Linked DNA regions of Homo sapiens. The protein of the gene in region 1 interacts with the protein of each later gene in a pairwise test. Each region holds a gene or a part of one and is shown in the gene's direction. Other genes may lie near its edges. The genes, in order: ZP3, CLDN11, SPACA3 and OR2L13.

Evidence for each region.
Region 2: the proteins of ZP3 (region 1) and CLDN11 interact in binary tests that used the Homo sapiens proteins (3 or more experiments, as listed by UniProt).
Region 3: the proteins of ZP3 (region 1) and SPACA3 interact in a two-hybrid assay, tested with the Homo sapiens proteins (one study listed by BioGRID and IntAct).
Region 4: the proteins of ZP3 (region 1) and OR2L13 interact in a two-hybrid assay, tested with the Homo sapiens proteins (one study listed by BioGRID).

Annotation. Positions count from the first base shown.
Region 1 is NC_000007.14:76,419,529-76,428,542, forward strand, and holds the start of ZP3 (zona pellucida sperm-binding protein 3 isoform 1 precursor), read left to right. Parts: upstream 1-5,421; 5' UTR 5,422-5,436; coding exon 5,437-5,748; intron 5,749-9,014. UniProt on the Homo sapiens protein: Component of the zona pellucida, an extracellular matrix surrounding oocytes which mediates sperm binding, induction of the acrosome reaction and prevents post-fertilization polyspermy.
Region 2 is NC_000003.12:170,428,056-170,436,083, forward strand, and holds the end of CLDN11 (claudin-11), read left to right. Parts: intron 1-4,468; coding exon 4,469-4,701; 3' UTR 4,702-6,636; downstream 6,637-8,028. UniProt on the Homo sapiens protein: Plays a major role in tight junction-specific obliteration of the intercellular space, through calcium-independent cell-adhesion activity.
Region 3 is NC_000017.11:32,987,404-32,995,912, forward strand, and holds the start of SPACA3 (sperm acrosome membrane-associated protein 3), read left to right. Parts: upstream 1-4,443; 5' UTR 4,444-4,535; coding exon 4,536-4,569; intron 4,570-5,447; exon of another isoform or gene 5,448-5,602; intron 5,603-8,005; coding exon 8,006-8,314; intron 8,315-8,509. UniProt on the Homo sapiens protein: Sperm surface membrane protein that may be involved in sperm-egg plasma membrane adhesion and fusion during fertilization.
Region 4 is NC_000001.11:248,097,162-248,102,345, forward strand, and holds the end of OR2L13 (olfactory receptor 2L13), read left to right. Parts: intron 1-1,489; 5' UTR 1,490-1,614; intron 1,615-2,196; 5' UTR 2,197-2,214; coding exon 2,215-3,153; 3' UTR 3,154-4,002; downstream 4,003-5,184. UniProt on the Homo sapiens protein: Odorant receptor.

The DNA of each region.
Region 1 (9,014 bases):
GTGTCTTAATTACCATAGCTCTATAATATGTTTTTATATCTGTTAGGGTGTGTGTCTCATGATGTTCTTTTTCTTTCTCCCTTCCTTCCTTCTTTCTTTCTTTTTCTTTCTTTCTTTTCTCTCTCTCTCTCTTTCTTTCTTTCTTTCTTTCGTTCTCTTTCTCTCTCTCTCCCTTCCTTCCTCCCTCCCTCTCCCTCTATCTCTTTCTTTCTTTCTCTTTTTCTTTCTTTTTTCCCCCTCCCCTCCTCCTCCTCCTCCTCCTCCCCCTCCTCCCTTTCTTCTTTTTTTGAGACAGACTCTCACTCTGTCGCCAGGCTGGAGTGCAGTGGCGCAATCTTGGCTCACTCACTGCAACTTCCGCCTCCCAGGTTCAAGCGATTCTCCTGCCTCAGCCTCCCCAGTAGCTGGGATTACAGGCGCGCGACACCACGCCCAGCTAATTTTGGTATTTTTAGTAGAGATGGGGTTTCTCCATGTTGGCCAGGCTGGTCTCAAACTCCTGACTTCAAGTGATCCTCCTGCCTCGGCCTCCCAAAGTGCTGGGATTACAGGCATTAGCCACCACACCCAGCCTCTTCTTTCTCTTCCTCCTCCCCCTCCTCCCCTTCCTCTTCCCCTTCCTATTCCTCTTCCTCTTCTTCCCTCCTCCTCCACCTCCTCCTTCTTCTTCATAGAGATAAAGTCTCACTATGTTGCCCAGCTGTTCCCAAACTCCTGGCCTCAAGAAATCCTCCTGCTTCGGCCTCCCAAAATCGTGTGCTGGGATTATAGGTGTGAGCCACCACACTCACACCAGATGTTCTTTTTCTGCAAAAACCTTGGCTTTTTGATCCTTAGCTCTTCCATATAAATTTTAGAATCAGTTTACTAAGCTCTGCCCACATACAGCTAAAACATGTTGGGATCTTGATAGAAATTACAGATTAATTTTGGGAGAATTGAAATAGTGATGATATTGCATTTCCCATCCATGAACATGGAATACCTCTGTAAATTTAGACATTCTTTACTCTGACTGCCAATACAGTTTTGTTAATTTTTCCTCAAAGATCTTACATATCTTTTTTTGTCTGTTTTATACCTAGGAACTTCATATTTTGTTTTAGCAATTGCTTTTGGAACTTGGTTAACAGCATCGTCTTCTGTCTCACTTGAATCTGACACAGAGAGTTTTTTATGTTTTTGGTTATTTTTTGTTTTACTTTTTATTTTGAAATTAAACTGATGAAAGTTGCACAGATAACACTAAGAAACCTGTTTACCTTTTACCCAGGTTCAGCCAATATAAAGATTGATACATATCCTCCCTCTCTCCCTGTATCTCTTTATATTTATGTCTATATATAACATATATATACACATACATATATATTTCCACGTGTGTGTGTGTGTGTGTGTGTGTCTCCACTTTTTTTTTTTTTTAGTGAGACTAAGTCTCAGTCTGTCACCCAAGCTGGAGAGCAGTGGCACAATCTCAGCTCACTGCAACCTCCACCTCCCAGGTTCAAGTGATTCTCTTGCCTCAGCCTCCTGAGTAGCTGGGATTATAGGCGTGTGCCACCACGTCAGCTAATTTTTTGTATTTTTAGTAGAGATGGGGTTTCACCATATTGGCCAGGCTGGTCTTAAACTCCTGACCTCGTGATCTGCTCGTCTCAGCCTCCCAAAGTGCTGGGATGACAGGCGTGAGCCACTGCGCCCCGCCATTTCCACATTTTTTTGAGATGAGGTCTCACTCTATTGCCCAGGCTGGAATGCAGTAGCATGATCATGACTCACTGAAGCTTAGAACTCCCAGGCTCAAGCAACCCAAGTAGCTAGGTTCCCAAGTAGCTAGGACTACAGCTTCCCAAGTAGCTAGGACTACAGGTGTGTGCCAACATGCCTGACTAATTTCTTTGATTTTGTAGAGATGGGGCCTCACTGTATTGTCCAGGCTGGTCTCGAACTCCTGGGCTCAAGCAATCCTCCCACCTTAGCCTCCCAAAGTGCTGAGATTACAGATGTGAGCCATTATGCCTGGCAGATTTTTAATTTTTTAAAATTATATATATATACACACACATATATATGTATAATTTTTTTTTTTTTTGAGATGGAGTCTCGCCCAGGCTGGAGTGCAGTGGCGCAATCTCGGCTCACTGCAACATCTGCTTCCCAGGTTTAAGCAATTCTCCCACCTCAGCCTCCTGAGTAGCTGGGACTACAGGCATGAGCCACCATGCCCAGCTAATGCCATTAGTTTTTGTATTCTTCCTCCTCTCTTGCAGGAATTTCACCCAGGGACAGCATAGAGTAGGCCATTGGTAAATGCTGTACCTGTCAGTCCTTCATCATCTCCTGATAGGACCCTTGCAGTAGACTTTTGTTGTTGTTGTTTTGTTTTGAGACAGAGTGTTGCTCTGTTACCCAGGCTGGAGTACAGCGGCGTGATCTTGGCTCACTACAACCTCCACCTCCTGGGTTCAAGCGATTCTCCCGCCTCAGCCTCCCAAGTAGCTGGGATTACAGGCATGTGCCACCACACCAGGCTAATTTTGTATTTTTAGTAGAGACGGGGTTTCTCCATATTGGCTTAGGCTGGTCTCGATCTCCTGACCTCAGGTGATCCGCCCACCTCGGCCTCCCAAAATGCTGGGATTACAGACATGAGCCACTACGCCCGGCCAATACTATTCCTTTCATGGCCTCTTTTTCCCACAGGGCTAAGTCCAGCATCTCAGCCTGGCACCCACAGGGTTCTGCCCCGCCCACCTCCCCGGCCTCCTAAATTGCTACTCTCACTCCCAGGGACCTGAGGCTTCACCAGGTTACCTACCCCAACCATGGGTCCTCAGGCCCTCAGTGCAATAGAAATTGACATGAGGTGGCCAGGCGCGGTGGCTCACGCCTATAATCCCAGCACTTTGGGAGGCTGAGGCAGGCGGATCACCTGAGGTCAGGAGTTCCAGACCAGCCTGACCAACATGGTGGAACCCTGTCTTTACTAAAAATACAAAAAGTAGCTGGGCTTGGTGGCAGGCGCCTGTAATCCCAGCTACTCAGGAGGCTGAGGGAGGAGAATTGCTTGAATCCAGGAGGAGGAGGTTGCAGTGAGCTGAGATCGCGCCACTGCACTCCAGCCTGGGCGACAGAGCAAGATTCCGTCTCAAAAAAAAAAAAAAGAAAGAAAAGAAATTAACATGAGGGCCAGGCACAGTGGCTCACACCTGTAATCCCAGCACTTTGGGAGGCCGAGGAGGGAGAATCACTTGAGGTCCAGAGTTCGAGACCAGCCTGGCCAACATGGTGAAACCCCGTCTTTACTAAAAATACAAAAGTTAGCCGGGCATGGTGACGGGTGCCTGTAATCCCAGCTACTCGGGAGGCTGAGGTGGAGAATCACTTGAACCCAGGAGGCGGAGGTTGCAGTGAGTCGAGATAGCACCACTGCACTCCAGCCTGGGCGACAGAATGAGATCCTGTCTCAAAAGAAAGAAAGAGAGAGAGAGAGAGAGAGAAAGAAAGAAAGAAAGAAAGAAAGAAAGAAAGAAAGAAAGAAAGAAAGAAAGAAAGAAAAGAAATTGACAGGAGGCTAAACGAGTTTTCCTAGACAAAGCTTCATTGGAGCTTATGCCCAGACATAAAGGAGGCAGCATGAGAGAGAGAGGGAGAGAGAGGGAAAGAGAGAGGGAGAGAGAGGGAAAGAGAGAGAGAGAGGGAAAGAGAGAGAGAGAGGGAAAGATATAGAGATTTTTCTATCTGACTCTCCAAAAAGAGCCAGGAGGGCTTTTTTATTAGGCAAAGCATGGGAATTTACATCAGGGATAGGGCATGCCGGCTGTGCTGGGCAAAGCACGTGAAGGTATGCAGGTTGGCATTATCTGGTTGCCATGGTTATCTTGAGTTATGGGCCACCTGGTAGTCTGGCTGGTGGCAACAAGGCTGTCAATCAGTTCAGCATTCCTTCCTGAGGTGGGACACTCCACAACCTTGGTTTGATATTTGAATCTCCTAAGGTCAGTTCCTGGGATTCTCTTAAGTAATAGGCATGTTTCCACATGATGATGTCAGTGAAATCGTGGTATGGGTCTGGTGATCACTGGGAATGCAGGAAAGAATGCAGTGGTTGGGCCAGGTGTGGTGGCTCATGTCTGTAATCCCAGCACTTTGGGAGACTGAGGTGGGCGGATCCCTTGTGGTGAGGAGCTGGGCATGGTGGAACAAGCCTGTAATCCCAGTTACTCGGGAGAGTAAGGCAGAAGAATTGCTTGAACCTGGGAGGCGGAGGCTGCAGTGAGCTGAGATTGCACCACTACACTCCAGCCTGGGCAACAGAGTGAGATTGTCTCAAAAAAAAAAAAGAATGCCCTGGTCGGGGTGAGCTGAAGCCAAGCCCCGCTTCTGCTGTGTCTCAGTATGAACTCCGGGGGATTCACCCAGGAATGAAGAACGCAGGGCCCCTTCTCCACCTCTCTTCACACAGCTGCCTCTGCCTGAACTGACCTACCCCCCGGCCTCCCATAAAATAAGGCAGAGACCCATGAAATTCCTCCTGTCTCCTAATTGATACCGCCTCCTTTTTCTCACACTTGGAATGAGCTCCTTATGTCTCAGATCTAATCCCCCTGACTCTTCAATCAAGGGCTTTCTCCTGTGTCCCCCACAGACCTGGGACAGCTCCCTTGCCGGGCTGCGAGCTTCCTAAGGGCAGGGCCAGCAGGGGATCGGAGGGAAGCTGTGATACATTGTGGTGCACCAGGCAGGCAGCACACTCTTTGCAAACTTTTACATGAATACACATGGGGATTTACAAGCTAAAAACTTTCAAGTGGGCTGGGGCGGGCGCGGTGGCTCACACCTGTCATCCCAGCACTTTGGGAGGCTGAGGCAGGAGGATCACTGGAGGTCAGGACTTCAAGACCAGCCTGCCCAACATAGTGAAACCCTGTCTCTACCAAAAATACAAAAATTAGCCAGGCGCGGTGGCGCATGCCTTCCTGTAATCCCAGCTATTTGGGAGTCTGAGGCAGGAGAATCACTTGAACCTGGCTGAGAAGTGGAGGATGCAGTGAAACGAGATCATACCACTGCACTCCAGCCTGGACAACAGAGTGAGACTCTGTCTCAAAACAAAACAAAACACAACAAAAACAAACAAACCACAAACACACACACACACAGCAAAAAAAAACTTTAATGTGGATACACGTGGGGGATTTCCAAGCTAAAAACCAAATTCTGCTGTGGTCATGCTGGGGTGAAGGCTGAGAGTTTGCAGTTCTAACAAGCTCCCAGGTGTTACTGATGCTTCTGGATGGAGACCACTTTATGCAACAAGGGCCCAGCTGGCTAGGGAAGGGAGGCAGCTGAGAAGCTGAGAGCCCAGGTGGCAGCAGCCAGCATCCCACGGGTATAAGATGGCCAGAGGCGGCTGCCTGCTGCTCTGCAGGTACCATGGAGCTGAGCTATAGGCTCTTCATCTGCCTCCTGCTCTGGGGTAGTACTGAGCTGTGCTACCCCCAACCCCTCTGGCTCTTGCAGGGTGGAGCCAGCCATCCTGAGACGTCCGTACAGCCCGTACTGGTGGAGTGTCAGGAGGCCACTCTGATGGTCATGGTCAGCAAAGACCTTTTTGGCACCGGGAAGCTCATCAGGGCTGCTGACCTCACCTTGGGCCCAGAGGCCTGTGAGCCTCTGGTCTCCATGGACACAGAAGATGTGGTCAGGTTTGAGGTTGGACTCCACGAGTGTGGCAACAGCATGCAGGTAAGAGAGGCTGGGGGCCCTGGCTTTGGTGGGAGGATGTTCGAGGCAGCCGGGTATGGGGACTGTGGCCACCATCGGTGGGAGGTGGGGTTGGGTGGATCCCTCTCACTTGTAGGTGGGGAGGTGGCCCAGTTGAGGCCTGAAGCTGGCACTGAGGTCACCGGACCCAGGGCAGCTCCTGCCTCTGATGCCCGACATTGGGTCGATGGGGTGGAGCCAGAGGTGGCCGTGCACTTCAGGCTGGCCCAAGCCACGCCACTCTCTCTCAGGTGGGTTTGTGACACACACAGGCCTGCGTGATAGGATAGCCCTGTGGGTAGCCTAAGGGGCTGTTTCTAAGGCTGGGGGCATTAGGAACTCATCCTGAAGAGACCCAAAGTATACATTATCTTAAAAACAACAAGTGGGCCGGGTGCAGTGGCTCATGCCTGTAGTCCCAGCACTATGGGAGGCCAAGACTGGAGGATCACTTGAGGCCAGGAGTTTGAGGCCAGCCTGGGCAACATAGTGAGACCCCATCTCTTAAGCCTTTAAAAAAACTAACTGGGGCCTGGTGTGGTGGCTCACGCCTGTAATTCCAGCACTTTGGGAGGCTGAGGAGTTTGAGACCAGCCTGGCCAACATGGTGAAACCCCATCTCTACTAATAATACAAAAATTAGCCAGGCATGGTGGTGCGTGTCTGTAATCCCAGCTACTCAGGAGGCTGAGGCAGGAGAATCGCTTGAACCCAGGAGGCAAAGGTTGCAGTGAGCTGAGATTGTGCCACTGCACTCCAGCCTAGGCAACAGAGCGAGACTCTGGCTCAAAAAAAAAAAAAAAATTCCACATAGATAAGTGGTATGGGGGCGGGGGCATCATAACCTTGGTGTTAAAGACCTTAAAAGCATCAGTGGGTCCCTGGGGGCAGCTCCAAGGGGGAGAGGCTTAACCTGTGGTACATGCAGGAAAAGACCAAGAAATCCAGGCCAGACCTCCCTTTCCCTAGCCAGTGGGGAAAGAGGCTGCAAGGAGAGGCCTTACGGCAGGGCAGGGCTGGGCACACAGCTCCCCAGCTAAACCCTGATCCCTGGACCAAGTTCCTGTGGTCCCATGGAGGGCCTGTCCTCTCCCGCCTCAGGGGAACCTGGCTCCTCCTCACCTGGGCCTAGACCCAGTAGCTTGCCTGGGATGGGGGCAAGTCCAGCCCCTGGAGCCCTCCGGCCAGAGCTCTGGTCTTAACTGTGGTCTCCTGGGCTCTCTTTGAGGACTCGAGGCCCTTGTTTTCCTGGGGAGGGAGGCCAGAGAGCTGCAGGAGTTACTTGAGGAATTATTCCAGTTTAGAGGCTCACAAACATGTCTTAGATTTACTTGGGGAGCCAGGTGCCTGGCTCCCCCCCCTTCTGTGAAATGGGCTTTAATAGGTTAGAAGCTGATAAGTGGTATTTTTTTGTTGTTGTTTTTGTTTTTTGAGACAGTTTTGCTCTTATTGCCCAGGCTGGAGTGCAATGGCGCCTATAATCCCAGCACTTTGGGAGGCTGAGATGGGAGGATCACTTGGGCCCGGGAGTTTAAGGCCACCCTGGGCAACATAATGAGACCCCCTTCTCTACCAAACACCACACACACACACACACACACACACACACACACAATAGGGTGTGGTGGCGCCTGCCTTTAGTCTCAGCTACTTGGGAGGCTGAAGTGGGAGGATTGCTTAAACCCATGATTTGGAGGCTGCAGTGAGCTACGATTGTGCCACTGCATTCCAGCCTGGAAGGCAGAGCAAGACCCTCTTTTATTAACCCCACCTGTGGAGCTTCTAAAAATCCTGATGTCCAGGCTGCTAAAATAGAAAGGATGTGGGACCAGCTGTGGGTAATAAGGATCTCAGGTGACTCCAATGAGGAGCAAAGCCTGCAAACTCCTTCCTCTGGTGTGGTGTTTCCCAGTTTTGCCCGGTGAGAATCACCTGCGGCTGGCCGTGCGCAGTGGCTCACGCCTGTAATCCCAGCACTTTGGGAGGCCGAGGCGGGTGAATCACGAGGTCAGGAGTTCAAGACCAGCCTGGCCACGATGGTGAAACCTCATCTCTACTAAAAATACAAAGAAGTTAGCCGGGTGTGGTGGCGGGCACCTGTAATCCCAGCTACTCAGGAGTCTGAGGCAGAGAATTGCTTGAACCCGGGAGGCGTAGGTTGCAGTGAGTTGAGATCGTGCCACTGCACTCCAGCCTGGGCAACAGAGTGAGACTCCGTCTCAAAAAAAAAAAAAAAAAAAATACAGCCATGGCCAGTTTCCCAGGTATACAACCTGTGCAGTTCTGTGGGGCCCAGTGCTTAATGGAATGCCCTCTTGCCCTGAAATGGTAATAACTTTTGAATAAGGGGCCCCACGAGCTATGCTGGTTCTGTCTGTGCTGGGGCACTTGCTAATAAGGTCTAGGACTATTCCCTGAAGATCGAGTTTGGTCAGGGCCAGGCAGCCACCTGAGCTCTTGGGCAACTTCGACCTCCTAGGCTCAAGCCATCCTCCTGCCTCAGCCTCCTGAATAGCTGGGATGGACTACAGGCACATGCCACCGTGCCCAGCCAAGTTATGTTTTTGTAGAGATGGGGTCTAGCTCTATTGCCCAGGCTGGTCGTGACTTCCTGGCCTCAAGCAATCCTCTTCCCTCCCAAAGTGCTGGGATTACAGGCATGAGCCACTGCACCCAGCCCTCAAGTAGTTTTTAAATAAGCTCCCTGAGATGAGAGGTGGGGATAGTGAGCTTAGAATAGGTGGTTGGGGGTTGAGTCATGGTGGCTCACACCTGTAATCCAGCACTTTGGGAGGCTGAGGCAGGTGGATCACCTGAGGCCAGGAGTTCGAGACCAGCCTGGCTAACATGGCGAAACCCTGTCTCTATTTAAAAAAAAAAAAAAAAGGCACGGTGGCACGTGCCTGTAATTCCAGCTACTCAGAGGCTGAAGCAGAGAATTGCTTGAACCTGGGAGGCGGAGGTTGCAGTGAGCCGAGTTCGTGCCACTGCACTCCAGCCTGGGTGACAGAGCAAGACTGCATCTCAAAAAAACAAAAGGTGGTTAGGAAGTGACTAAAGTAGGGGTTTCCAGTGCTGGCTCTATGCTAATCACCTGGAAAGGTTGTAAAAATACTGATTCTCAAGAGAATCTCATACCTTCACTCTACTGGGGTAGGGCCTAGCGTCACATTTTTCTAATATTCTAGCAAAATCTTCGAACTTAGGTGTTTGCTATAAAACTCTCTCCCAGGCAGGCCCTGCCTTCT
Region 2 (8,028 bases), on another chromosome or scaffold:
CTGAGGATTGATGCTCGGGAGAATGAGTCTGCAGTGAGTCGAGATTGCACCACTGCCCTCCAGCCTGGGTGACAGATATCCTATCAAAAAAAAAAAAAAAAAGATTTATTGGAAGGAGGAAGAAATGTCAGTGTCTACTGATCTTGTCTTTCTCTGCCTCTTTGTCTGTCTGTCTGTCTCTCTTTCTCTCAGTTGTTACCTCCAACGTCAAACATACCTGTATTGATTTTATTTAACTTCATGTTTATTTAACTCCATGTGTTACCATGTGTCATCTCATCTTTAAAGAGATTAAAAGCCACACTTACATTTCATTGCTTTAAAATGGACTTCTCAAATATTTTCTGTTTGGTCACATCACCATCATTCTTAGTTTTTAACAAGGCATATCTTATCAATTAAAGAATGTATTGTGTTGCATTATTTGAAACTTGTTCTCAAAAGGGGCAAACAATTTTATTCTTTGAAGAGCAAGGAATTCTGCTTATGAGAGGACCAGGTTTAGATATATCTGTCTTTACATAGTGAAGCTTTCTTTTCCCTTCCCTTTCTCTCCCTTCTCTTCCCCCTTCTCCTCCTTCTCATTTTTAGCTAAGAATATACCTCAGTTTTACTTTCTGTTTTCCAACAACAAATGGTACCCCCCACCACCTTGTGTAGTTAGCTGTTGCATCTTCTGAAGGTAAAAAAGGAGAAAAACTGAAAAATCTGAGTGCTAAAATTACTCTGTCTTGTTTTTAGAGACTTAATTTAAAAATAAACTCTGATGATATAAAAAGAAAAAGAACAAAAATTCCCTTTGTCTGTCTTCAATTTTCTTGACCTTACAGGTAACTGACTTTCTAGAAAAACACTTTCTTTATTTTTCCCAAATAACAGAGAGAACCATTCCAAACTCATCTTTTTGGGTTTGCGAATAAAATTAAAACTATCAGGCCTTCTGTGTCTTTAAGAAAGGCAATTATTTTTGGCCAGTTATATTACTATTTCACATTTTTAAAAGTTAAGTAATGATTTGTCTTGAATTTTTAACTTTACTGGTCAAAACATATCTCTTTCTCTCTTGAAACCATTGCTGAAATTGAGTAAATTCTCCTTTTTTAGTTTTTAAACATTTCTCATTTTGGGTTCAATTGAAGGTCACTGTTTTCAGTGAGCCTCTCATTTCCTTTCATGTTGTGTGGCAGTCTGTCATTTTTTAGTGGTTTTGATGTGGTTCATCTTTGAGAGCCACAGGAATTCCACCCAGGGTTCATTTGTCTCCTAGGAAGTAAAGAGCCTGCTGGCACTCATTTGCCTTGTTTTGTGTGAATTGTAAGAGAAGGAAATCTTTAATGAGGTCAGTGATGAGCTTGCGACTTTAAGTGTGTTAAAGTCACAATAAGATTTTATGACTTTGGGTGTCAGTTTTGGTATGTATGAAGTAAAATGTAGAATTGAAATGAGACTACTTCTCATCTATCCATCCATTCGTTCCCCCGTTCACTCATCCATTCCTATGGAGGTTCATTGTATGAAATATTTAGACCTTTTTCTGATTTTTCCCTTTTTCTAATGATTTATATTGGAATAAAACCTAACAAAATCCCTAAAATACTCAAAACCAAGACTGATGGTTACTTTTGGGATATTGAGTCTGTTATTTCCCTGTGTGAAGATAATCTTGTTTTATGATTTGCTTAAGGGAACAATGAAATGAATTTAGAGGCAGTTTCTTGTCTTATTCTATAAAATCTCAGTGTGAAAGTTAGGTTAACAATAGATGTGGGGAATGCTTTCCTGCATGTGTGTGCACATGTGCTGTATGTGTAAATACAAAGTATAGTTGAAAAATATAAAACTTGATTTGAACCCTGAGTTGTTTTGAAACCAGTTAATTGTTTATAGGAAAGATCGGTTAGATTGAACCATATCAGTTGTTTGGGAATTAGAACTTTTTTCTCTACAGAATTCAGCTTTTCACTCCCCTTCTTTTTCCTCTAAACAAGCCTGGGTGTTTGGAAGCCTTTGCTAGGTTGCTGTTTTTTGCCCACAGCAGAACGAATGCCCACTTTTGAGGTTTAGGGCTGTGTAAGTAGATTGTGTATTGCTACGGAAAATCTACAGTAGTTCTCTCTGGCTGAAACACTCCAGAAGAGGATTTTAGTCCCTTTTGCTGACAGAGAAAAAGGTTTTTCTCTGTGTCTTGCTGAAAGTAGAGACTCTGATAATAGCCAAGCAATTCTCCAAGAGTGCCTGATTTGGAGTTCACGCCAGAGAAGAGAAAGAAAAAGACTTTCCCCTGCATCTGAGGTTTCCAAAGTCCTGAGCTAGAAAGGGAGGTTTCACGTACACACTGCTTTTCTTGAACATTCTAGTCACAGAAGGAAAATACATCTTCTCATGGTATCTCATATGAAAATATTACAGAAGCTGGCATGACTGTGCTTACTTTTTAAGAAAAAGGAAGCATTAGCATATGGATAGATTTTAGCTTCTTCTTTTTCTCTTTTTTTTTTTTTGACACAGAATCTTGCTTTGTTGCCCAGGCTGGAGTGCAGTGGCAAGATCTCCGCTCACTGCATGCAACCTCTGCCTTCTGGGTTCAAGCAATTCTCCCTGCCTCAGCCTCCTGAGTAGCTGGGATTACAGTCACCCACCATCCATGCCTGGCTAATTTTTGTATTTTTTTGTAGAGATGGGGTTTTGCCATGTTGGCCAGGCTGATCTTGAACTCCTGACCTCAGGTGATTCGCCCACCTTGGCCTCCCAAAGTGCTGGGATTAAAGGTGTGAGCCACCATGCCTGGCCAATTTTAGCTTCTTAGATAATCTATAAATAATTAATGGAGTGAATTTGGGCTGTTAGAAAGCCAATCTGGGCAATTCATAGCTTTTCAAATTAACTCTCTTCCTTCTGATTTCCTCTTGAGATCTATTCTTTTTAAGGATAGAAATCATATCTTCCTACATATATCTATACCCAGCTTGTGGGGGTGGGCTTAATCTATTGTCAATAAAAATCTATGTTACAAGCAACACAAATGCGATGAGATTGTTTAAAAGGTCTTTCAAAATGGGTAAGACCAATCTTTTTTCCATTTAGAACTAATATACAAGGCTGTTAGATTTGATTGCTTATGTTAAGTTATATTTCTTCTCTGTGGGCATAGAGAGTAAGTTAGAAAATCACTTACTATGAGTAGAAATCAGAAAAAAGCTTGCTGAGTTGAAAGTGATAACGGTACCCCTGGTGGCAAACATCAGACTGGCAGTGCAGTATCTGTCTTGAATTTGTTGATGGAAACCTCATTGTTATTATTATTGTTATTATTATTTTTCTGTCTGCCAACTTTAATGTGCCATCTCAACTTAAAGAGGTTTGGAGTTACTTTGTTTAGAGCTGTGTTGTTCGGTACAGTAGCCACTAGCTACATGTGGCCATTTAAATTAAAATTAATGAAAATTCAAAATTCAGTTCTTCATCTCACTAGCCTCATGGCAAATGATCAATGGTCCCACATAACTTGTGGCCACTCCATTTGACAGTGCTGGTCTAGAGATTTGAAAAAAGTAAAAAAAAGTCTTTATAGCCTCTTGCCTGCCCATGTTTTGTTACTTTGCTTATAAAGAGGTGAAAAACTACATGATATATAAGCTATTTCTTATTTTACTCTATAAAATCAAAACCAAAATGAAGATTAGATTGATTGGTGCAAGACCATAAGTAAAGTTCTACCATTTTGACCCTTGAATGGGTGAGTTTTTCTACTCCAAGGACTGTTCATTTGTGTGTTGGGATTTTGTGATTGTGAACAGTGTAATAAAAACTTGAACCTTTATCTGGTACTCCGTTTTCATCTAGCAACATTCACCACAGCAAGAGAAATTTCATACCTTCTCCAGATCTTTGTAATGTGAATTGACCAAACTGAGAAAATAGAGTGGAAAATTGAGGTGGCTGCCATCTTGTTTCTCATATTTGAATAGCTCAGATCATTCAGCCATTCAACTGGTCTACATTGAGCACATACTATTTGCCTTGTACCAAGGTAGACATAGGTAAGACATGGACCCTACCTTCAAAGAACTCAGAGCTTAGAATGATGCATAGACATGTAAAGGGGTAATTATAATACAATTAAGTAAGAATACTAATTTTAGAATTATAACTGTAGATATGAAGTGTTGATATACAAGTAAATACAAATAAATATTTTTTGGACTTAAATGGTTTATTTCTAGGTTTTTACACTGGAATTGTTTTGTCTCTGTTACCTGCTGAAAAAAATAAGGACCCAGCAGTCTACTTCTTCTACAGATGCCAACTGCTACATATTGGTTCAGTGTTGAGGGAGCAGAACTGTGTGTATGGAGCTTTTTGGAGCTGGTTGGAAGCCACAAGTGTGTGTATGTGGAGTGAGTGGGCCTGCCCAAGTGCTTGGTGTGTGATGGTTGCGCCCAGTCACCGCCTCTCCATGTCTCTCCAGCTCTCTGCGCCCTTGTTGCCACCATCTGGTTCCCTGTGTGCGCCCACCGTGAGACCACCATCGTGAGCTTTGGCTACTCCCTGTATGCAGGCTGGATTGGTGCTGTGCTGTGCCTCGTGGGTGGCTGTGTCATCCTCTGCTGCGCTGGAGATGCCCAGGCCTTTGGTGAAAACCGTTTCTACTACACTGCGGGCTCTAGCTCCCCGACTCATGCGAAGAGTGCCCACGTATAAGAGGGCTGCCCGGCTGCCCACAGAGGTGCTGTAGATGCTGGGCCCAGGGCCCTAGGTTTGCTCGTCACAGTGTGGGGAAGCCCATTCCTCTGCCAGGCTCTAAAGCCAAAGGTCTAGAAAAGCATCCTGTCTGGCATTTTGTAGTCTTAACTTCTCCCCATTTCCCCCATCTTTTGGTTGCCTTAAAAGAAATCTCTAGCTCAGATAATGCCCAGACATTTTTTTCCCTTGGTGTTGCCCCTATTAGCTCTTTTCTTGGGCATTCTTTTGCTGTTTATTAAAAATATATTATATATATTTTGTTTCTTTAAATTTCAAATGTTTTGCAAACATCACTGAGTTAGGTGGGGGTGGGGAAGAGAAATACAAGATACTTTTTTTTTTTTTTTTTTTTTTTTTTTTTTAAATAGGGCCTCACTCTGTTGCTCAGGCTGGAGTGCGGTGGTGTGATCTCGGCTCATGTAGCCTCAACCTCCCCGGCTCAAGTGATCCTCCTGCCTCAGCCTCCCAAGTAGCTGGGACTACAGGCGTTCACTACTACACCCAGCTAATTTTTAAGTTTTTTATAGAGATGAGGGCTCCCTATGTTGCCCAGGTTGGTCTCGAACTCCTGGACTCAAAGTATCCTCCCGCCTCGGCCTCCCAAAGTGTTGGGATTATAGGAGTGAGCCACCACACCGGCCAAGATGCTTTTCAAACTGATACAGATGACAATGGGAGCCTCATAAAGATGGCTTTTGTTTCTTCCCTTCAAGGTCATTTACTTGTACGAGACAGAAAAAGATAGCATTGGGGACATGGGATGGGGGAGGGAGGGCAATAGTGGAACGAACTTTCCATGGGAAACTTTCCCTTTTGTAAGTTGAGGGCCAGGGGTAGGGATATTTTTTAGTTTGTGATTTTACATTTATCTGTACATACTTTTTCAAGATTGATCATTTTTATAACCATGGTTTTCCTGAAATCCTCAATTCATCAATATGAAGGAAATGAACCACATAGACTTTATGCAATAAATAACAGTGCAAGTGAGTATAACTCTAACTGATGTTCCACAAAACATTTTTGATTTCAGGTTTGTATGATGTAGTTTTTAATCGTACATTTTCATATGCTTCAAACTAACACATTTTTAAAGCTTTCCCCCACTTTTCTCTCTATTTGTATTGTTAGCCATCTTGAAGTGATGTTGTTTAACATAAATTGTACTGTTGAATTTGGCTTTACGGGTGTAAACACTGATGGTATATCAGTATCTGAGACCCCAAACTCTCCAAATACTGATGGTGCATTTTATTCTTGAAGTGAAATCTGTGCAATAAAATAACAGACTGTCTGCAAAACTGGCCTTCAATCTTCTGTTGTATCCAGAGGTATCATTATTGATTTAAAAAAATCTCATTAATCTCTACTGGTAATTTATAGGGAATCTGATCAGTGATTCAAGAACAAGTAATTCTGCATTGCCTTGAATAATTAAAAAGTTATATTTTATTCACGGTATTGCAGTGGTAATTTGTGGTCATGAAAGCATAACCTCAGTGCTCTCTAGGTTTCTTAAGTGGGGTGACTTTATGGCATCTTTAATCATCGATCAATGGGCAGCAATCAGAAACAAAGTTCTCAGCATTATGCAGTTAATGTCCTTCATCTACTTCTAACACTTAGTAAAGGAATTGATTGGCTAGGTATAAAAAGAGAATTAACGAAACCTATTTTATTGGATCTTTAAGTAATAATATCTAAATACATTTCGTTCAAACATACATATGTAGCTGTTTGGACATTTTGGACAAAGACACATTGAGTTGATTTTTATTTGTTTTTCTGTTCCAGAAACTTCATCAAGTTACGGGCCTGGTCTAAGAAAACACATTGCAATCTATTTTGGCAGACTTCTTTCAAATAAAATACTAATTTCATTAGCTGATAGTATAGTAATTGGCAAACATTTCCTCTTTGGAAATACCAATTTGGGCTAGCCATTTTGCAGAAATTTGTGTAGTTTTGATTATAACCTGTTGGAGAGCATTTCTAAATTACTTATACATAAAAGATAATCTTTTTTTTGTTTGTTTTTTTGAGAAGAAGTCTCGGTCTGTTGCCCAGGCTGGAGAGCAGTGGTGCGATCTCGGCTCTCTGCAACCTCCGCCCCTTGGGTTCAAGCGATTCTTGTGCCTCAGCCTCCCAAGTAGCTGGGACTACAGGTATGTGCCACCACACCTGGCTAATTTTTGTATTTTTAGTGGAGACAGGGTTTTGCCATGTTGGCCGGGGTGGTCTGGAACTCCTGGCTTCAAGTGATCCTCCTGCATCAGCCTTCCGAAGTGTTGGAATTATAGGCGTGAGCCACCGTGCCTGGCCATAGAAGACAATTTTTATGTTAACTAAAATATTTGCTTAGCTATTATAATATAGCTTTTGTAAGGATAAAAGTCATGTGACTACATTGGAGGACTCTCCCTACCTCATTAAAAGTTGTCAAGGTATAACGATTATGAACCAGAAGGGAGCAAAAAGCGTTTGAGGGAGTGGACGAGGAGGCTTCAGACCCCATGATCCCTTTCCTCACAACCACCAGCTTGTGTCAGAAGTGTCATTAAGTGGGTCTCCTCTCTTATGGATGTATTGACTCGCCCGCTCCTTCCCTGAGCTGCTGCTTGTTTTCTCTCATAAGGGGGCTGCTGCATGAGCTCCACTTTTCCCTTCCGTGTAAGAAGAGAGACTCCCAAATCGCTCCTAGCTGACCATTCCCTGACTAATGAGGGAATCCCAATTTGGAGGTCATAACTCTAGTGTTAGGTTTAGTATCAGTTTGATGGAGGAGAGGTTGATGTGCCTCTAGAACAGTACTGTCCACTAGGAATACGATGTGAGCTGTTTAAAATTTTCCAGTAGCCACATTTCAAAAGCTAAAAATAAACAAGTGAAATTAATTTATTTTATTTGATCCAGTACATCCAAAATATTATCATTTCAATATGTAATCAATTGATGAGATATTTCACGCCCTTGTTTTTGTATTGTCTTTGGAAGAGCGTGTATTTTACACTTGCAGCACATTTCCATTTACACCAGCCACATTTCAAGTGTTCAGTAGCCACATGTGGCTGGAGGCTTTTGGATTGGACAGCACAACTGTGGAACAACAGGTTCTGTCTCAGTAACCATCGAGAGGATCAGTCTTGATTATCTTATCTGCTGTCATTAGAGTCCCCTGAGAACTTGGCAATTACAATTTATTGAAGAATTTTAATAAATCTTCACCTAGGTGAAGACAATGACCTCCAATCACGTGTAAAATGGCAGGCTTAAAGTACTCTGCGT
Region 3 (8,509 bases), on another chromosome or scaffold:
TCTGGGGTCTGGAGAACAGTGACCCTCTTCTCATAGCTCCACTAGGCAGTGCCCCAGTGGGGACTCTGTGTGGGGGCTCTAACCCCACATTTCCCTTCCACACTGCCCTAGCAGAGGTTCTCCATGAGGGCTCCACCCCTGCAGCAGGTTTCTGCCTGCACATCCAGGTGTTTTCATACATCCTCTGAAATGTAGTGGAGGTTTCCAAACCTCAATTCTTGACTTCTGTGCACCTGCAGGCCCAACACCACGTGGAAGCCACCAAGGCTTGGAGTTTGTACCCTCTGAAGCCATGGCCCCTTTTAGCTCTGGCTGGAGCTGGAGTGGCTGGGATGCAGGGCACCAAGTGCCAAGGCTGCACAAAGCAGCAGGGTGCTGGGCCTTGCCCATAAAATTATTTTTTCCTCCTAGGACTCCAGGCCTATGATGAGAGGAGCTGGCTTGAAGATCTCTAACATGCCTTGGAGACATTTTTCCCATTGTCTTGGCTACTAACATTTGGTTCCTGGTTACTTATGCAAATTTCTGCAGCTCATTTGAATTCTTCCTCAGAAACTGGGTTTTTCTTTTCTACCACGTGGTCAGGCTGCAAATTTTCCAAACCTTTATGCTCTGCTTCCCTTTTAAACATAAGTTAAAATTCCAAACCATGTCTTTGTGAATGCGTATAACTAAATGCTTTTGAGAGCACCCAGGTCACTTCTTGAATGCTTTGCTGCTTAGAAATTTCTTCTGCCAGATACCCTAAATCATCTCTCTCAAGTTCAAAGTTCCACAGATCTCCAGGGCATGGTCAAAATGGCACCAGTCTCTTTGCTAAAGCATAGCAATAGTGACCTTTGCTCCAGTTCCCAATAAGCTCCTCATCTCTATCTGTGACCGCCTGAGCCTGGGCTTCATTGTCCATATCACTATCAGCATTTTGGCCAAAACCATTCAACAAATCTTTAGGAAGTTCCAAACTTTCCCACATCTTCCTGTCTTCTTCTGAGCCCTCCAACCTGTTCCAACCTCTGCCTGTTACTCAGTTCCAAAATTGCTTTCACATTTTCAAGTTATCTTTATAGCAGTGCCCCACTACATTGGTACCAATTTACTGTATTAGTCCATTTTCACACTGCTATAAAGAAATACCCAAAACTGGGTAATTTATAAAGGAAAGAGATTTAATTAACTCACAGTTCCACATGGCTGGTGGAGGTGGCTCAGGAAACTTACAATCATGGCTGAAGGGGAAGCAGGCACGTTTTACAAGGTGGCAAATGAGAGAAGTGCAAGCGGTAGAAATGTCAGATGCTTAGAAAACCATTAGATCTCATGAGAACTCACTCACTATCATGAAACCAGCATGGGGGAAACCCTCCCATGGTCCAATCCCCTCCCTCCCTTGACACGTGGGAATTAAAACTTCCTCCTTTGACACATGGGGATTGCAATTCAAGTTGAGATTTGGGTGGGGACACAGAGCCAAACAATATCACATGTTCATTGCAGCATTGTTCACAAAAGCCAAGAGGTGGAAACATGTGTCCATCCACTGTGATATGGTTTGGACATGTGTCTCCTCCAAATCTCATGTTGAAATGTGATCTCCAGTGTTGGAGGTGGGTCCTATTGGGAGGTGTTTGGGTCATGGTGGTGGATCCCTCATAAATGGCTTTGTGCTGGCCTTGTGGCAATGAGTGAGCTCTCATCCTATTAGTTCATGCAAGAGCTGGTTGTTTAAAAGAACCTGGCATCTCCTTCCATCTCTCTTGCTCCCTCTCCTGCCATGTGACATGCTTGCTCCCCCTTCACCTTCCACCATGAGTAAAACCTTCTTGAGGCCTCGCAGAAGCCCAGCAGATGCTGGCACCATATTTCCTGTACAGCCTACAGAACTGTGAGCCAAATAAACTTCTTTTCTTTATTAAGTTCCCCAGCCTCAGATGTTCCTTTATGGCAATGCAAAATGAGCTAACACACACAGATGAATGGATAAAGAAAATGTGGTATACACACAAAGTGGAATACTATTCAGGCTTAAAAAAGAAGAAATTTCTGACATATGCAACAATATGGATGAGATTTAAGGACAATATGCAAAGTGAAATATGCCAGTTACAGAAAAGGAAATAATTCTACTTTTATCAGGTACCTAGAATAGTCAAATTCATGGAATCAAAGAGAGGAATGGTGGTCACCAGGGGCTGGCAGGAGGAGAAAACAGGGAGTTACTAATCAATGAGCATAAAGATCCAGTCAGGTGGCTGGGTGTGGTGGCTCACGCCTGTAACCCCAGCACTTTGGGAGGCCAAGGCAGGTGGATCACCTGAGGTCAGGAGTTCGAGACCAGCCTGGCCAACATGGTGAAACCCTGTCTCTACTAAAAATACAAAGATTAGCCAGGCGTGGTGGTGCATGCCTGTAATCCCAGCTACTTGGGAGGCTGAGGCAGGAGAATAGCTTGAACGCAGGGGGCAGAGGTTGTAGTGAGCCGAGATCATGCCACTTCACTCTAGCCCTGGCAAAAGAGTGAAACTCCATCTCAAAAAACAAAAAACAAAAAACAAAAAAAAAAAAAGAAAAGAAAAAAAGAAAAAAAAGAAAATCCAGTCAGGCAAGATGAATGAGCTCAAGAGAGCTGCTGTACAGCAGTGTCCTCTACAGTCAACAATAATGGATTGCATATTAAATATATGTTAAGAGGGTAGATCTCCTACTAAGTGTTCTTACCTCAATAAAAAAATGAAAGAAAAAAATACTGGTGCTGATGCTGGGCCATCCCTCAATTTTAACTTGGTTGTCCTGGGGTGGGGCCCAGACAGATAGGGTGGACATGGTGCAACCAGACACTTTTATGGCTGTGCTCTGCACTTAGTAGTAATTACTATTATTTATTGAGCACCTGGGGTACTAAGCACTTTGTTGCTGTTTCATTGAGCCTTCCTAGTACCCTGTGAGGTTGGTGTTGTCATCCCCGCTTGAGAATCAAGGAATCAGAAAGTGAGGCTGTTTTCTCTAGGTCATCCACCTGGAAGTCACTAGCGCCTGTGTTCAGCCCTGGTCAGCCTGACCCCAAAGCCTATGCTCTAGCTGCTGTGCTGTGGGACTCAGGCTCCTGTGGGACACAGACGTGGGCACCACATGCCCTTTCCTTCCAATTCTCTGTCCTTTAAGTTTTAGGGTCAATAGGGTAACCTTTGCCCTGCACCTGTCCACACTGAATGGCCATCATCCAGGTGGAGAAGGGAGTGGCTTGTGGCTCAGCATTAAGGAAGAACTTTCTGGCACTCAAAGGAGCTTCATGGTGAGATGGGCAGCCTGGAAAAGCAGAGGGCAACCACCACCATCCCTAGGAACCCACCACCATCCCTGGGCACCTACCCCCATCCCTGCACATCCCTCACAATCCTTGGGCACACATCACCATCTCTGGGAATCTACCACTATCCTTGCACACTTACCACCGTACCTGCACACTGACCACCATCCTACACACTCACCTCTGCCTCTGCGCACCCACCGCCATTCCTGAACATCCACCACCATCCCTGGGCACCCAACACTACCATCCCTGCACATCCACCACTGTCTCTGAACACCCACCACCATCCCTGCACATGCACCACCATCCTGGGGCACCTGCTACCATCCTTGGGCACCCACTTCCATCCATGCACACCCATCACTGTGCCTGGGCACCCACCAACATCCCTGCACACCCACCACCATCCTGGGGCACCCACTGCCATCCCTGGGCACCCACTACTGTCCCTGCACACCCACCACTGTGCCTGGGCACCTACCACCATCACTGCATATCTGCCACCATCCCTGGGCACCCACTACCATCCTTGCACATCCACCACTGTTCTTGCACACCCACCACTGTCCCTGGGCACCCACCACAATGCCTGCATATCCACCACTATTTCTGGGCACCAACCACCATCCCTGCACATCTATCACCATCCCTGGGCACCCACCATCATCCCCGTGCACCCACTACCATCCCTGCACACACACCACCATCTCTGGGCACCCACTACCATCCTTGCACACGCACCACTGTCCTTGCACACCTGTTAACATCCCTGGGTACCCATCACCATCTCTGTACATCCATCACCATCCCTAGGTGTCTACCATTATCCCTGGATAATCATCTGAAAGATCTGTTGGGAGAGGAAGTGTCATCCCTCAGTGTAGTGTGTGTGTGTGTGTGTGTGTGTGTGTGTGTGTGCGCGCGCGCATGTGTGTATGTGTGTGTGTGTGTGGGGCAGAGATGTGCAAGGGGGCTGGGATTAGATATCCTGCTCTGCCTCTGGACCCTGAGTGGAAGGGCTCAGGTGGGCTAGTCAAAGCTCTGTGGTGGCGCTGTTTGTGGAAGATGAGCTCACAGAGCTGGAGTTCTAGAAGGCCCTCCGTTGGCCTGGAGCCTGCCTTCCCCATTGTTCTCTTAACACTGGGTGCCTGGGGCCCTGGCAAGGTTGTGGGGGACATCTTGAGCTGAAGCAGGGTTTTGAGCCACTGCTGCTGCTGCCATTGTCACCATGGTCTCAGCTCTGCGGGGAGCACCCCTGATCAGTGAGCCCCCTTTCCCTTCTTCCTGGGGCTGTTAACAGGGGCGCTGGGTTGGTCTGGCCAGAGACCAGGTGGAGAAAAACAAGGTGGTGGTTAGGGTGGGGTTATCCTGGCCTGGAAGAGTGACCAGCTGAGAGAGGAGAGAGAGAGAGAGAGAGAAACTCTGGAGCTGTTGTGAAATGCTCAGGATGGAATTCCTTTTAAGTCACTTTTCTACAAAAAAAAAAAAAAAAAAAAAATCAAAAACAGTCCATGTGTAGCAGTCAATTTAGTTTCCTCCTCTACAACTTAGGGATATTAACCCCACACCTTTCAATTGCTGAGAGGATTGGATGAGATTAAGTTGGAAAAGCTCTGGGAAAGGCCTGGCACAGTGTTCAAAGACTTGACAAACTCCACCAGGTTGGCTGCCTCCTCCTTCTCACTCCCCTCGCGGTGAGAAGAAGGTCTCATGTCCCTGTGGCCACGCCTTTTGTGGACTTGAGTTTCAGAAGCAGCCACAGAGCAGCTACTCCATGCCAGCAACTCTGCAGATAAATAAGACATGCAGATAAATAAGACCAGCCGCCGTTCTTCAGAAGTTAACTTTGTGGTGGGAAAGACTGACATCTATTCCAGCCTCGTGTGACAGAGGATGTGGAAGATCGGGTGTGTGAGAGTGTGGGGGGTGGTGGCATGCCAGGAGACTCTCACTGGGGAACACACCTCTGATAAGACCCTTCAAGTATGAGTCAGAGTTAACCATGTAGAGGAAAGGAGAGGGTGAATGTTCTAGAAAGCAAGGTCATTGTGAGAGAACAAGGTGGCACTGCTGAAACATAACGTGTGAATGAGGGAGTGGGCCGCAGGGCTGGGCTGTGAAGGGTCGTGAAGGGCCGTGTGGACCTCGAAGGGGCAGTTATGGTGGGAGCCATCCAAGGTGTCACAGGGCTGGGCTTTTCATTTAACAAATTTGTTCTGATGGATGTGTATAGAATAGCTTGGAAGAGTGGTTGAGACATGATACAAGAAGACCATGAAGGAAGCCAGGATGGAGGTGTGAACCTAGGAAAGGACGGTGCTCTCGGAGGGAAGGTGGAATCCACAGGACATTGGGACTGATTGGTTGGAACTGGGTGAAAGATGTCATGGGGAAGGAGTGAAGAATGACATTCATATTTCCAGTTTGGGTAAATGTGTGGCCCATCATGTTTTAAAGCACATAAGGAAAGTCACAAGGCAGAAGAAGGCATTGATGGAAACAGTGGTTCTGTTTAGATGTGCTGGGTTTGAGGTGCCTGCAGGGCATTCAAGTGGAAGTGTCCTGCCAGTAGCTGCCTCTGAGGTCTTGGGGAAGATGCCACAGGGGTTGCCAGCCTTCAGGCGGTGGCTAACAGCAGGGCTGCCCAGGGGGTTTCCTCAAAGTGGAAGAGAAGAGGGCTCAAGGCAGGAAGGCCTTAGAAAGCATATCAGCGTTTATGGCCTGGGCAGAAGTGAATTCCACGGAGGATAAGGAGGAGAGTCAGCCAGAGAGGGAGGAGGAAACCTGGGAGAAGGGAGCATCGTGGAAACCAGGAGAGGCAAGCCTTTCAACAGCGGGTGGCGGACGGCATGAGTACAGCTGAGAGCTCCCATGAGACAGAGTCGAAGGGGGCCTCCTTGGACCCGCAGAGCAGTTTCAGCGCGCGGTGATGGCAGGGAGGCCAATTCACCAGGTTGGAAAACAAGCGGGAGGGAGAAAGTGGCGATTTTCCCCAGGAGTTTGGGCGAGAAGAGGGGGAAAGAGACAAGGGAGTAGCAGTCAGCATGAGACTTGAGGGAAGGCATTTAGAAGATGGAGACTGAGAAAGTCTCTACGAGCAGGGGAAGGAGGAGCAGGAGGGGAACGGTGCTAGCGCGCCGGGAGAGGAGGGACAACGGATGGAGCAAGGCTTGGTGATGGGAAGGACAAATCTAGAGCTTAGAGGGAAGATGGGCCTGCATGAGATTGGAGGCCCCGTACCCAAACAATGACGGGGTGGAGATGAGGGCGAGGAGGCTACTGATGAGTTTGCAAGTGAGCAGGGCTAAGGCAGAAAGAGGAAGAAATTCCACAAGTGAGCACCTTGCTTTTCTTAGTGCAGCAGGAGACGAGATCATGTTCTGAGAGCCAAGGGGTGGGACAGCGTGGCGTGCTAAAGGACAATACTGAGGGTTTTCATTTCCTGTGAGGGAAATGGGAGAGAGAAGTCTGAGCAGAGACAAGCGCGAGTACCAGTGTTAGTTGTAGTTCATAACAGAAACAACAACTCACTTATTTTTAGTGCCAAGAGCTACGCTGTGCCCACGCCTTTTCTCATTTATTCTTCCAACAATCATATGAGGCAGGTGTTACTCACGTCCTCATTTTATAGAGGAAGAAACAAGCCTCAGGGAGGGCCCAAAATCAGAGATGGAGCAAGGAGCAGAGGGGGGCTTCCAACCCGAACCTTGCTGCAAAGCCATGACCTCAACCACTTTGTCATCCTCGGGGGCATTCAAGGTCCCGTGGAGGTTGGAGACCAGGGACACCAATTGGCACAAACAAGAGTTTGTACAACTCTTTCACTTTTTGACTCTGTGAAGGTGGAGAGCAGGTGTGGAGGCGCAGAGGTCAAGAGAAGCATGGGAAGGCTTGTCAGAGGTGGTGGGCAGTGGGATAGGAGCTCACAGAGGTGGGGAAATGCGGGTGAGGACAAGAAGCAGGGATGACCAGGGCAGGGGAGGGACTGGCTGAGACACAGAGGAACTGGAGGGGACTAGGTCTGGGGAGATGAAGGAGCCCTGATGCTGTGACACCCAGGTGCTAATGTCCTCTGTGATTTGGGGGACTGGCCACACACAGCCAATGATGACAGGGCAGGGAGGTCAAACCAGACGGGCAGGCTGGGCTTCCAGGGAGAAGGGCTTTTTGCAGGTTATGGTTTAGAAGTGGTGGTGGGGGTGGAGGAGACTCTCGGGACATCTTGGGGTCTTGTGTGTGGAGAAAGAGCAGCTTCCCCTTGAGCGGGCTATAGGGGAGCAGTGTTCTGGGGGAGACCTTGTTTCAGTTAAGATCTGGAGATGGAGGGTCAATGCCAGAAGGGCTGTCCCTTGACAGTTGGGCTGAGAGACCCATGAACACACCGCCTGGCCATCCCCTCCGGGAGCATCTGCTCAGTGGGGCTTTGGATTTATAGAACTTTGTCTCCATCCAAACTTCGCCCCTTCCTAGTTATAAAATCTTGGGCCTCAGGACTAAATAATCCGTAACGTGTAATATGGAGCTTACAATAGGTTAGTTTTCTTCCTGTCTCTGGCCTGGGTGGTGTGAAGCAGGATGGGGAAGGAGAGGGGCTGGTCTCGGGGTCAGGGTGATGCTGATCAGGAATGCAAGGGGGCTGATACGTGCTGCTGGAGCCTGGCCTTCTGCCCACCCCTTCTCTCCTCTCCCCTTTCCCAGGGGTGCACTCAAGCCCTGTTTCTTCTCCTTCTGTGAGTGGACCACGGAGGCTGGTGAGCTGCCTGTCATCCCAAAGCTCAGCTCTGAGCCAGAGTGGTGGTGGCTCCACCTCTGCCGCCGGCATAGAAGCCAGGAGCAGGGCTCTCAGAAGGCGGTGGTGCCCAGCTGGGATCATGTTGTTGGCCCTGGTCTGTCTGCTCAGCTGCCTGCTACCCTCCAGTGAGGCCAAGCTCTACGGTCGTTGTGAACTGGCCAGAGTGCTACATGACTTCGGGCTGGACGGATACCGGGGATACAGCCTGGCTGACTGTGAGAACCCCTCTCCCTGGCGGGCCCTGACTTCCCCACACCTCCCTCCCTCTTTCCCTCCCTCTCTCCTTCTCATTCAAGGGCTGTGGCTTCGGGAGCTTTTAGAGCCCTTCTGTAAACTGAAGATGATTTGAGATGGCAGGTAGAGAACAGCCAGCACGGAGTAAAACACGCAGTAGGCAGGCAGCAGGCAAC
Region 4 (5,184 bases), on another chromosome or scaffold:
GTCTCTTCTTGTTCTCCAGGTTACTTGCCACAGAAGTGTTTCTGGGCTGCAGCCCTCAACCTTGGCCCAAATAAACTTTCTGTATTAATTTTGCCTTAGTGTCGTTCTTTAAGTCAACAAGGATGGCCAAGGCAGTCACTAATCTCACACTCACCTGATAGCCACAGGAACAACATTTTCCCAGCTATAAGGTAACCGACAGAATGATGCTTCATGTAATTCTGGTGCATGAAATAAGGTCCCATGTCTAACAAGGAAAGCTGCTGGACATCAATGGAAATAGATCCTAAACTCAAACTCCAATATCCCATGACCTAAAATCTCCAAGTCCCAGATTCACAGGATCCTAAAAGTAACTATTCTCTTCCATTGCCTAACAACATGCCACTTTTCCATTTTTGGAAACAAAATCATTATTGTAGTAACTGCCATAAAACAATCTTTATAATACTCTGAGCTATAGTCTATGCAACAAAGAATCAAAATGTCTCTCTTCAAAACAACTCCAGGATGGAACACATAAACCTACACCCAAGTCAGCTTGTTCAGGGCTCGGTATTGGATACACCTCATGGGATCATGCTGGCAGCTTTCTTCCCCTGGATTTAAACCTGGATTAAACAAAGGAATTCAGAAAGCACTACAAAAGGCTTTTCCAATTTCCAGGACATGTTGGGCATCCCCTAAGGCCTGGGCACATCAGGACAGTTGGTCGCCCACTTGGGGATGGGACAGCACCTGATGAATCATTCTATCCCCACTGCCTCACTCAGTGACTACTGCATCAAAGGCTGTCAACATGTTAATCTGATAAAATTAATCAAATATTTGCTTGGAACTAAATTACTAGGATAGTTCTTACTGATAGAATGAAGCCACATGAGTTACAAAATCAATCTTTATCATACATACCCTGGAAATTAGAAAAGTCGTTTGGAATACTTTTTGAATTCCTTTGTTTAATCCAATGATCTCTCTGCTTTTTTATTTTTCTATAGAATCGTAATCACTACATAACATCACTGTATGTTTGAGTTTGTTGGTCTATTGTTTGTATAATTATCTCAATTTTAATTACATATTCTAAAATCCTTTGTGTTTCATCACCAAAGCACATCAGTAGCTAGCAGCACTGTCATAAAACATAAATTCAGTGAACACTATTTGAGGAAATGAATGTATCATAATGATGGTTTTCATGTTTTTTTCTGATCAGTTTTTATTTCTAAAGCACTATAAGAAGCAGAGAGTGCCTGTGATCCCATTTGGCATCCAAGTCCAATGCTACTGTGCACCTGTCATGTTCCCAACTTTTCATTGTTAGTGTTTATTCCTTAGACAGCTATAGAAATGAATTTCCATTTTTTTTCCTGTGGCAGGCTCTCTTTCACAATTGTATTCATGCTACCCAAGGTTATATGAACTAACAGTTGAGTTTAAGTTCCTAAATGTGAATAATTGCAACAAACTATGATTTGCTTTTGAACAGCAAAAGTTGAAAAATCAGTAACCCAAGATGACTAACCAAATCAATATGCTGGGCAGGATGAGACATCAGTGTCTGCCTCAGACAGAAGAGCACACACAAAACATGACCTCTCACTCCAAGCCCAGGTAAAGGAAGAAGTCACACAGATGTTAGAAATATAGTTTACGAATACCTGGGAAACTGCATGAAGAAAAAAACAAACTGCCAGATTTGGGGTGGTGTAAAGAGAAAAAGAGAGATTCTAAAAGTCATAAATAAAAATTCCCAAGGAAAAGCCTAGGCATAAAAAGCTAGACAAACTTTCCAGGGAGGGAAAATTATTTATTTTTGTTTGCTTGATTTCTTTATTCTCAATTATTAACATTTAATTGTGTTGTTCTATCTAATTAAATTGGAAGACATGCTTAAGCCATAAATTACAATTGTTCTACTGCTCACACTGGCTTTTCCAGTTGAATAGATTTGTAGCTGCTTGACTCTGCTGTCATCTACAGTAATGAAAATCAAACTATAAGAACAGAAAGTGAATATCCTCTCTAATCTCCATATGCTTCAGATATAGAAATTGATTAAAAAAAACCTGCAGTGTTAGTGGAGAAACAACTCATTCTAAACAAACATTGATAAAGTCAGTTCCTTTTTGTTTTTCTATTGTGTTTTATTTCATGTTTTGTGCTTTGCTTTTGTTTCTATTTCTCTTTCAACAGTTACAGCAGAAAGTTTTCATGGAGAAATGGAATCACACTTCAAATGATTTCATTTTGTTGGGTCTGCTTCCCCCAAATCAAACTGGAATATTTCTCTTGTGCCTTATCATCCTCATATTCTTTCTGGCCTCGGTGGGTAACTCGGCCATGATTCACCTCATCCACGTGGATCCTCGTCTCCACACACCGATGTACTTTCTTCTCAGCCAGCTCTCCCTTATGGACCTGATGTACATCTCCACCACCGTCCCCAAGATGGCGTACAACTTCCTGTCCGGCCAGAAAGGCATCTCCTTCCTGGGATGTGGTGTGCAAAGCTTCTTCTTCCTGACCATGGCGTGTTCTGAAGGCTTACTCCTGACCTCCATGGCCTACGACCGTTATTTGGCCATCTGCCACTCTCTCTATTATCCTATCCGCATGAGTAAAATGATGTGTGTGAAGATGATTGGAGGCTCTTGGACACTGGGGTCCATCAACTCCTTGGCACACACAGTCTTTGCCCTTCATATTCCCTACTGCAGGTCTAGGGCTATTGACCATTTCTTCTGCGATGTCCCAGCCATGTTGCTTCTTGCCTGTACAGATACTTGGGTCTATGAATATATGGTTTTTGTAAGTACAAGCCTCTTTCTCCTTTTCCCTTTCATTGGCATCACTTCTTCCTGTGGCCGAGTCCTATTTGCTGTCTATCATATGCACTCAAAGGAGGGGAGAAAAAAGGCCTTCACCACCATTTCAACACATTTAACTGTAGTGATCTTTTACTATGCACCTTTTGTCTACACCTATCTTCGGCCCAGGAATCTCCGCTCACCAGCTGAAGACAAGATCCTGGCAGTCTTCTACACCATCCTTACCCCCATGCTCAATCCCATTATCTACAGCCTGAGGAATAAGGAAGTCCTGGGGGCTATGAGGAGAGTGTTTGGGATATTCTCTTTCCTGAAAGAATAATCATGGCCATCCCCACTCCCTTTGTATTTCCTCTTTCCAAGTTGATTCCAACACGCTAGAGCAGGGTTGTCCAATAGAAATACAACATAATTTAAAATTTTCTAATAGGTACATTTAAGCAGTCAAATAAATTTAAATAATATATTTAATTCAAAACAATGTTATAATTAATATTAATATTAACAATATTGATGTTAATTACATAGCATACTATTTCAATAAATTATATGCAATATATTATAGTACATGTTTGTACATATATTACTATTAACGTGATAATGTTTATTCTTGTATATTGACATAGAATTTCTTCATGTAATAACACAAATTTGTTAATGTTGCCTTTTACTCTGTTTGCATTCTAAGTCTTCAAAGTCTTGTGTTTGTTTTATAGAGTGCAGCGCAGCTTGGACAAAACACATTTCAAGTGCCCAGTAGTCAGTGTCTATAGTGTTGGACAGCACATTCTTAGAGCATCCCCAATCAATAGTTTCAGAAGTTATATATGCATGTGTATGTGCATGTATGGTGTATACAAACATATTTTTGTTATATACAATATTGCTGATGAACTGAAAATTAACAAGTAAAATGCACATGCTAAGGTAGTGTTTATGTGTTTCTTTATCTGTTGGCTCATTTTTAGCATATGCACATTTATTGTAATTAACATTTGAAGTCCAGTTTATCCTAACTCCTTTAATAAAACTATTCAGGGAGAGCTTATCTGACTTATGATTTTGCTGATTTCATAAAGATACTGAGATAAAATAACTTGAATATGAATATAAAAGAACCCACATTTATGTATACATAAAAATTAATAAAATCTTTATATAAATAACTTTATCAAAGTTGTACTTAAAGAAATTATTTATATAAAGGCACAGAGACAGTGACAGGGTAGAGACAGCATGCAAAATATAAAACGGAAACTGGGACCTCAGGCTTCAGCTTTGATGTGTAAAATATGTATATGACTTTGCACAGGATGAAATCCTATGTTGCTATATGGAAAGTTGTGTTTAACAAAAGTTTTACTATGGTTGTTTTACTAATTCACTTAAGTGACTTCAAGTCTATCAATAGTTGGAGTTATAGAGGGGTTCTGATTTTTGTGGAAAAAAAATTGAGACTTGTATTAATATATCCCTTTTATTTACTGCCCAAATTCAAGCTCCCAATATCTTTTTCTAGTTTCTTACTGCCTTAAGTGTTTTCATCTCTTGAGTCCAGTTCTTACTGAGAATATAGTGTACTCATTGCCATTTGAGTTATTTCCCTAAACATACATTTGATCTTGTCATTCTATAATCTATGATTCCTGTTGGATTATCTAAATTTTGGAACATGAAACTTATATCCCCATGCTTTTAAAGCATGCATTATGTCTCCCTTTACCTGTTTCTATCACTTACACTCAGTACCACAGTCACTCTAGACCTCCTGCCTTTCTCCATAGCCCTCTATTTCCTTGCCCATCTGAACCTTATCACAGACCATGTCTCACTTCTGGAAAGTTCTGATTTACATAGCTTATGACTATCAATCTGAATCCCACATAATCAGTAAACATAACTCAAAATTGACATCCCATCTCTTCTTGTGCACAGCTGATATCTCTTTCCCCCACACTTCTACTCCTGCTTATGATCACATTTTATTAACACTTATTCACATCTATGTCTGTCTTATTTTAAATTGAAGCTCATAGAATATTTTAAAAATTATAATAATTAGGATTATAAGGCTAACAAATATTTACTAATTGTAAATGCTTTTCCCACATACATAACTTAACCTGCACTACAACACTATGATTCCGATATTTATTCCATGTTGAGTGAGCACTTTGAGGCTTGGTGAGGCAAAACAAACAAACAAGAAAAATGTCTTAGGTCAGAGAGCTGGGAAGGGAAGAACACAACTTAGAAGCCAGTTTTCTTTGAATCAGGCTTTGATTCATGTCACCCAGTCTCTGAACAAGACCCTCATCATTTTGGCCTGGAGGTCCCCACAGAATGGAGTGCT